2 linked regions of the Homo sapiens genome follow. The protein of the gene in region 1 purifies or fractionates together with the protein of each later gene. This does not show direct contact. Each region holds a gene or a part of one and is shown in the gene's direction. Other genes may lie near its edges.

Region 1 (4,268 bases):
TCTTGTCCTGCGGTGTCTCCTGGCCTCTGGAGAGGATGGCCCATCTGCCCTGTACAGATCCCTCCCTGCTCTTCATCTGTTGGAACCCAACTCCTCCCCACTGCTGGTGCTGCTTTCCAGGTCACCAGGAACAACCCGTGGACTCCTGGCTTGGCTTTTACCATCTTGGTTGTTCTTGGCAGCGTTCAGCACTGTTGCCCAGGAAAAGAACTGAGGCTGTTGACTTGGAAAATAGGAGATGGGGAAGTAACTGCCTGCGGATAGAACCAGCCTGTGCAGTCAGACCTAGACCATGCCCTGCTCCTGTGCAGTGCCCCCCTAGGGTTGGTGGCACATTGATGTTAGCTCGTTTGTGGGGTTGTGGCCTTTGTGCCTTCAGTCTGGGCAAGTTCAACTGCATGCACCGGACAAGAGAGGAAAATAATTAAAACACTGTGGGCAGTTCTGTCAGCCGCTCTTCTCTTGAGGGTCAGCCTAGGCAGGGAGCTGGCTCTGCTGTCCCCTCTGCCACTCTCACCTTCCATGGGCCTTTGGGAGCAGGAGCCCTGTGCCCTATGCAGTGGGAGTCTAAGGCATAATGATGCATCTCTTTCAAGCAGCGTGGCCCTGTGTGTAGAGCAGGTGAATTACATGTGGCTCAGCCACAGAAATGGCAGTCCAGAAGCACTGTGGGAAAGCTGGCTGTGCTCAACTTCCTGGGTTCTGAGGGTAATTCTCACTCTGCGTAGTCCTTCCTTATCCCCGGTAATAGACCCATGGGGAGCATAGGTCCTCTCTAAATGGAGCAGGCCAGGAGCTCCCTGACACCCAGATGCTCCGACCCCACCCCCTACCACCCACGGCCTCCCGCCTCAGGAAGTCTCTAAGTCGTGGATAGCTTTATGGGTCCTTAATATCTGGCAGGCAGAATGAATGGGCAGAGAATCCAAAATGGAAAAACAAAAAGTTTTAACCTTTGCTCATTCATTTATAGCTCAAAATAGAGATCTTTCCAACTTTGTAATCCAGTGGGAGAGGTGGGATGCAGTTTATAGATACTTGATTTCTGTGCCAAGTTCACTGGCCACACAACTCATATGTAAACTGTGGCATAGATGTAGCATTTAGAAGCTTTTTATTACTATTATTATCTTTTGAGAAAATATGAGCAAGGAAGAGAAAACCCACACTTCTTACAGTTCCTGGATCTGAATCTGTTTGCTTTTCTGTGTTTACAGAAATTATGATTTTAAACCAAGAAGAAAAAATGGAGATTCCAATACCAGGAAAGAGCAAAACTCTGACCTCTGACTCCAGCTCGTCCTGCATCTCAGCAGCTGTCCCCGTGCCTCCCTGCCCCTCCTCGGAAACCTCCGAGTCACTGCTCAGCAAGGACCCCGTGGAAAGCCCGGCCAAAAAGCAACCCAAAAATAGAGTCAAATTGGCAGCCAACTTTTCCTTAGCACCTATAACCAAGCTTTAACTCCCATTTGGAATATAGAATTAGGATGGGAAAACACTGTCTGATTCTGCACACAAAAGTGGGTTTCAAAAATACATCCTTTTCTGTGTCATGAAAACCCCCCGAAGCCATTGACTTCATCTTACCTGTGTTCTATCATGTTTTTCTTTTCCATTGAACACAGCTTTGAGCTGAAGTCTTTCTTTTCTTCTTCCTTTTTCTTTCTTTTTTCAATTATTTGAAGAACTTGTGGCATTTGTTAAAGAATCCTTAATATATTTTACCAAATTTTTAGTAACTATTATGAAATACAATGGTGTTCCAAAAGAAGAAAGCACTAAAAACTCAACTAGCAGGAAGCGGTTTTGCTTCCATTGAGCCACGTCGGTGGTGTCATCCTACATGTAGCATAATAGAGTCTCTCAGCCTTTGCTTACTGGTGTTTCCGACAGTATTAACCCAGTGCGTGGCATGTCTTTGAAGCAAAGCCTGTCCCGCTAGCCTGTGTGTTCACACACCAAAGGAGAAGGGTAGGCGAGGGGTTCGGAGTGTATTTTCAGGTTGGAATGTGAAGGTTCCTGGCTTCCATGTGACTTGTAAGTGTGCCTTGTTTTTTATTTAAACTATGTCTGTAGTTGACAAAAGTGGCTTCATCACAAATTTTTTTAAACGTTTCTACTTTGGGGTTCCATTTAGGAGCTTTCTAGAAAGTTGAGGATGTTTGAAGCTTCCCTTCTGTGTTCCAGTTTGATATGGGTTAGGTTAAGGAAAAGGAGATGGTCTCGATGTCATGGATTTAAAGTCAGCATTTGGATTACAACACACATTATTGTGTGTCGAGAGGCAGCATTGGAAAGAGCCTGATTTTCTAAAATATGCATCAAGTGCATAAATTACAAATCAGAGCTGAGTGGGGAGGTGCTTCAGCAGCAGCGGGATCAATACGATTTCCACTGGGAAGAGACAGGAATTCTACCTACACATAGGAAGGCCAAGGTTGATCCACTTAACCTTGTTATTGTAATTTTAAAGCTGGTATCGGTAGCTGGGAAGCTTTATGTGTGTGTATGTCAGCTCAGCATCTTTTAATCGTGTCTGATTTTACTCTCGTTACTTCTCGCTGTTGGAAGCATCTCTGGGTTTCTTGTGGCGTCTGGTGTGGAATGGCCTTCCTCTCTAGGTGCCTGAGGTGTCCGCTGACGGGTGGCCTCTCACCCCCCTCTAGAGAAACCTGACATTTACAATGGATTGTATTTGTCCGGCAAAAAAGGCGGATTCATTCATAGAGCAGAAAGAACCTGTTGGCGTAAGGTCTTCCACTAGTTAGATGGTTTCTTTTGGGGAAATGTTTATATTTGGTAACTTCTAGAAAGCCAGAAAATGGACTCTGATTTCATAGCATTTTGATAAAATGCCACAAAATAAGGGCTATAGAGAGATTTTTACAAGTCAGATTTTTTGTTCCCCAAATCTTTTAAATGAAGCCAGTGACTCCCAGTTCTCAACACATGGCCCCAGTCAAGACAGAACACCATGGAAAAAACCCTGTAAGTATTATGGCACTCTCCGAATCCTCCTGAAGGCATTTCCTCTACAGACATAGTGTTACAGGAAGTGAAATGCAAATGTGCAATTTTTTTTAAAGGAGCTTTTAAACAAAGTAATAATAATTGGTGTTGAGAACATCAGTTGCCTTATTCTAAGATTTCATAAGGCTGAGTTTGCACGCTTGGACTTCAGTTCTGCTAGCATGTAAAGAGTGGTGGACTTTAAAACCGTAAGAGGTATCATTACAAGTCACCTGGAACAGACTCAAAGAACAGGTTCTTTGGGCAACAGACAAAGAAGAATCAAGTTCTGTGCTGTCCCGTGAGTGTGTCTGAGTACCATTCACTGGAGTTGCTGCTTAGGTCTGGGACGTGTGTGTGACTCTTAACAATTGCTGTCTGAAAATGAGAGAGAAGACTTCGGAAGCACATTGTGTTCATAATGTACTCCACAATGGCCAGTCCAATTGCTATCTATTTTTTTATCCAGAGGCTTAATTAAATGATGTGGTAAAATGATGTTTGAGCATTAAGACAATGTAATTCTTTATTTCTGGGTGGAAAGATATACCGGATTAAATTTATCTGTTTAAAAAAATGACAAAAGTTATCACCAAAACCCCCTTTCCCATCTTGCACTGTTTGTTTTGGATTGGGTTTGGGGGAAAGAGATGTTTTTCTTAGTTGTCTACTTTGTTTGAACACTTTTGTTGTGGTTCAAGTGCTGTTTTGTGTGTTGGGACCAAACAGTTGTCAATAAACTTTACAAGCGAGCATCTATTTTGAGTTTCCCAAGTGAGTGGTTTTGTCTGTCTGTCTGTCTGTGGGGAGGAATTACAAACCAATACAGTTCTGCCATCTTTCATTTTGGGTCTCCTCAACTTCTCTCCCCTTCTGGAAATAGAATTGTGAGGTGGAGAGTAAATCCGTCTACATCTTAGAGGCCTTTTAAACTCAGCACACGCCGAAGCAGGTGGCTGGATGGTGGGCCCTTCGTCGTCAGGATCCTCCAAGTTTTCCAGCCTTTGTTCCAGCTTATAATTACATGTGGGAAAATACAGTAACCACAAAAACCTTCCAGTTAGAAAACTCTATTAATTCCTAGGCTCTCTCTTCTTGTGAAAGAAATCCAGCGTGCCCGCTGTCTCGTTTTTGGTCACTGCTAAGCATGCTTTTTGAATAAGCCAATTTGGAAAAGAGTTATTCCACAGATACAGTTGTGAAGCCCTCCCATCCCCTGAGACCGCCATTACCCCGTCACCCCTGCCACCAGCACCCTC
Region 2 (3,961 bases), on another chromosome or scaffold:
GGCGCGCTCTTGGCTCACTGCAATCTCCACCTCCCGGGTTCAAGCCATTCTCCTGCCTTAGCCTCCCGAGTAGCTGGGATCACAGGCATCCGCCACCACGCCCAGCTAATTTTTGTAATTTTTAGTAGTGACGAGGTTTCACCACGTTGGCCAGGCTGGTCTCAAACTCATGACCTCAGGTGATCCACCCGCCTCGGCCTCCCAAAATGCTGGGATTACAAGCCACCGTGCGCAGCCTGTGATGTCCTTTTCTTTCTCTTTTTTTATTGAGGTCTATCTTGCTTATAATAAAGGCACATTGATTTTAGGTCCTCCAGTTATTCATGCTCTGTACATTTCCCATAGGAGCACATGTCACAGATTCAATTTGATATACTCGTGAAATTATTTGTTTGAATATCTGTAAGCTGCACAACAGCCTGGATTTTGCCAGCTGCCCACCACTGGGTTCTCCAGCACCCAGCATGCAATAGGTGCTTAATAAAGATCTGCTGAATGAAATGAGTAACGGATAACAGAACAGGTATTTTCTCTTTCAGAGGCGACTTCCTACGATTCTCTCAACTTGTCCACAAGTTCCTGTACCCATTACCCCACAACTCACACCCACAACATAATGGCAGGAGGATGCGCACACAGTAGGCGCTCCAGCGAACTCTCAGGTGCAGTGCCCTTGCTTGGCGCGAGGAGGCGCCAGCACCGCGCACAGACCTTGCCCGCCCCCGGGCCGGCACCAGCAGCCCAGGCAAGTCAGTGGGCCCACATTTATGGAGCGCCTCCTGAAATCCTGGGTTGCATTAGGCTCTCGGGGTCGCCGGCTGGGCAGCGGGTCGGTGCCGGTGGCGGGGGATCCTGGCTGGTGACTGGGGAACATCCAGGGAACGCGGGAGGGTACCCGGAGCAAAGTTCCCAATTGGACAGAGCGGGGTCGGGCCTCGAGGGGCGGGAGCGCTTCCGGCAGGGGTGTCCAAGCGAGTCGTGACCTCTGACCCGCCGGAGAGGTCCCAGGCCCAGGCGCCACTGCGGACTCGGGTCCTGCCTGCTCTGCTCCCCTCCGCGCAGGCGCGGCCGGCGGCAGTTCCCATGGTGACGGGGGCGCGTCCCCGCTCGAGGCCCCGCCCCCAGCAGGCTAGGCTGCGCGGGGCTGCGGGCTCCCAGGGCAGGTGCCGCGGGCTGCGGGCAGGTGGCGGCGCGGCGCGGGCTGGCGGTGGCTCCACGGTAGGTTGCGCAGCGGCTGCGGGCAGTGGGGGCCGGCTGGCCGCCTCCTGTCCCCGGCCGACGAGGTAGCTGGGGGTGACGGCGGCTGGCGAGGGCCGCCAAGTTTCTGCCCGGCCGAGGCCCCGGGAGAAAAGTTGGCAAAGTTGGCCGGGGAAGAGGCGGGGAGCCGGAGGATTTCCCCAGACTCCGGGTCTGCAGGGAGGGAGGATCCCGGTTTGGGAGCCGGGGAATCCGTCTCCCGAGACTTGAGAGTGGATCCCGCGGGAAGATCCCGCACAGGGCAACCAATGGATCACGTGCCACCTGGTTGGCGACTTGGGAGTCGATCCCTGGAGGGGATCGGGCGCTGGAGGCCTGGGGTCCCACTGGATCCCCAGTCAGGGGTGACGGCGAAGGGTGATTCGAGACTGGGAGCGAGAGGATCAATCTCCTCCCATGCCAGCCTGAGCCTTGGGAATGGATTCAGAGAGATCCCGTGGCTAGGAGCTGAGGGATCGCTGGAGATCTGGGTTACTCAGCCTGGAGCTGCTAGGGTCTGGACATTTGTGCGGGTTGGAGGCCCCGGAGGTGGAAGTGGGAAGCAAGGGCGGCGAGCGAGACGGAACCCTGGTCGAGGGGAGCCCGGAGGACAGCGCGGTGGTTCGGGGGGCGTGAGAGGGGCGGCGCGCGGGGCCCCTCGGACGCGGAGGCTCCGGACACGTCCTCTCGGCCTGGCCTGCGCCCCCCCTCCGCTCGTCTTCCCAGGGCGGAGGCGCCCTGATGGGATTAAGCCTCAGTCCCCCTGTTACCAGGCAGGCCCGCGTGGTCCCCGCCCCGATGGCGGCGCGGCCCACCCGGGCTCACGGGTGGGGCCCTCGGGATGGGAAGCGGCTCGTTGACCCCCACCCGAGCCTGACCTTTTCACACCCTGCTGGCACAAACTCGCCTGGGAGTGGGGACGCCGCGCCTTAAAACCCTGCTGTTTGTCCAGTCCCGGAGCAGGCGTGTGACCTCCACCGCGCGACGCCTAGGTGGCTAGGGCTTCCTGCCTGCCGGGACTGAACTTTCTCTAGCCAGGAGCAGCCATTATCTTTTGGAAGGGAAAGGACTGTACCTGTTGCACAAAGAAAAACACTTTCTTTGCACCTTTTTTGTGACCTTGGGCAAAACACTTAACCTATCTGAATCCAGATGGGGACCCTCTGGGCAAAATGGGCTTGGCCTAGGATGGATCGGAATGAAGGGTATGAAACAGGTAGGGGCTCTATAAGTATCAGTGCCTCCCTCAGTCTATGGCCTCTCCTTTCCCGTGCCCCATCCCCTGTGCTTGCCTTACAGTATCTAAAGATTCCAGAAACCCTACTTGCTATCTTTTGAAACCGCAGGATTAGAGAGCTATTTAGCTTAACCTTTCTTCCAAATGGGTTAATTGCCCCTCTGATCCCCCCTTGCAGAGAGAAGCTCTGAGGTTTGGCTAATGAGTAACCAAGACATTTGGACAAAGCTTCTCCCTTGGTCTGGCTTTCCCTCTGCTAATCCATCAAGGTTCCTGGACAAACGTGTGCACCCCCAGACTCTGGCGCCTCCTTCCTTCCTGTTGCAGCCAGGGACAGTTCCCGAGGAATTTGTACAGACACAAGCCCAGATCTTGGTGGTTCTGGCAGGGGGATCCTTTTTAAAGGATTTGCATGCTTGACAAGGGTGCAATTACCCAAGAGAAGTGCAGAGTTTCAATGCAGTGTCTGGACATACATTTCAGCTGGGCACATGAACTGGCTGGCTCCATCAACCAGCGTGTATTGAGCACCTATGTCAGGAGCACTGTAGAAATGGTGTGGCCTAGGGCAACTCAGGATTTGTCCTCTTGGAGTTACTTTCCAGCTATGGAGCAGTCGGCTTGCCCTGCAGTCTAGTACTGATTCTTGATGTTGGGGATACAGTTCTCACCCTAGGTTCAGAGGCTGGAAGCTGCCCCTACCCCCACTGGAGGTCCTAGGGGCTGCTTTTTTTCGTTTGTTTTGTTTTGTTTTGTTTTATTTTGTTTTTTGAGATGGAGTCTCGCTCTGCAGCCCAGGCTAGAGTGCAATGGCGCGATCTCGGCTCACTGCGACCTCTGCCTCCCGGGTTCAAGCAATTCTCCGGCCTCAGCCTCCAGAGTGGCTGGGATTACAGATGCCCGCCACTCTGCCCGGCTAATTTTTGTATTTTTAGTAGAGATAGGGTTTCACCATGTTGGCCAGGCTGATCCCAAACTCCTAACCTTAGGTGATCCTCCTGCCTCCGCCTCCCAAAGTGCTAGGATTACAGGCATGAGCCACTGCGCCTGGCCGGGGCTGTTTTTTATTGAAGGCTGACCTTGGCAGGAGAATGAAGGAGCCAGTTGTCTGGCTCTGAGCATTTCTCCTCACCAGGCTACATCTCTGACCAACTCAGAAACAGAGCCTCACAGGGATATTTTATATGTGCATTCATTCATTTATTTATCATTTGTTCCTTCAACAAATATTTCAAGACACTGTGTCAAAGATGAGGCTAGCAGCCACATCCTTAAGGGGATACTTTATGCCCTGAAAGTCTTTGTGAACATATGCATTTGTCTGGAAGGGGAGAACTATGATCATAGGAGGAGGGGCTGATGCCTTTGGCTATAAGGAGGGATGCGGGTCAGAGAGTTTAGTTTTCTCGACAGCCAGTGGGAAGAGGTTGGTGTTATGGGCTGCAGAAATGGAATAGCTTGTGCAGAAGCCTGGAGGTAGGTGAGTGC

The links.
Region 2: the proteins of MARF1 (region 1) and KIAA1671 purify together in Homo sapiens (affinity purification with mass spectrometry, with the first as the bait; one large-scale study listed by BioGRID). This does not show direct contact.

What each region holds. Positions count from the first base shown.
Region 1 is NC_000016.10:15,593,887-15,598,154, reverse strand, and holds the end of MARF1 (meiosis regulator and mRNA stability factor 1), read left to right. Parts: intron 1-1,217; coding exon 1,218-1,462; 3' UTR 1,463-3,768; downstream 3,769-4,268.
Region 2 is NC_000022.11:24,951,555-24,955,515, forward strand, and holds the start of KIAA1671 (uncharacterized protein KIAA1671), read left to right. Parts: upstream 1-1,161; 5' UTR 1,162-1,218; intron 1,219-3,961.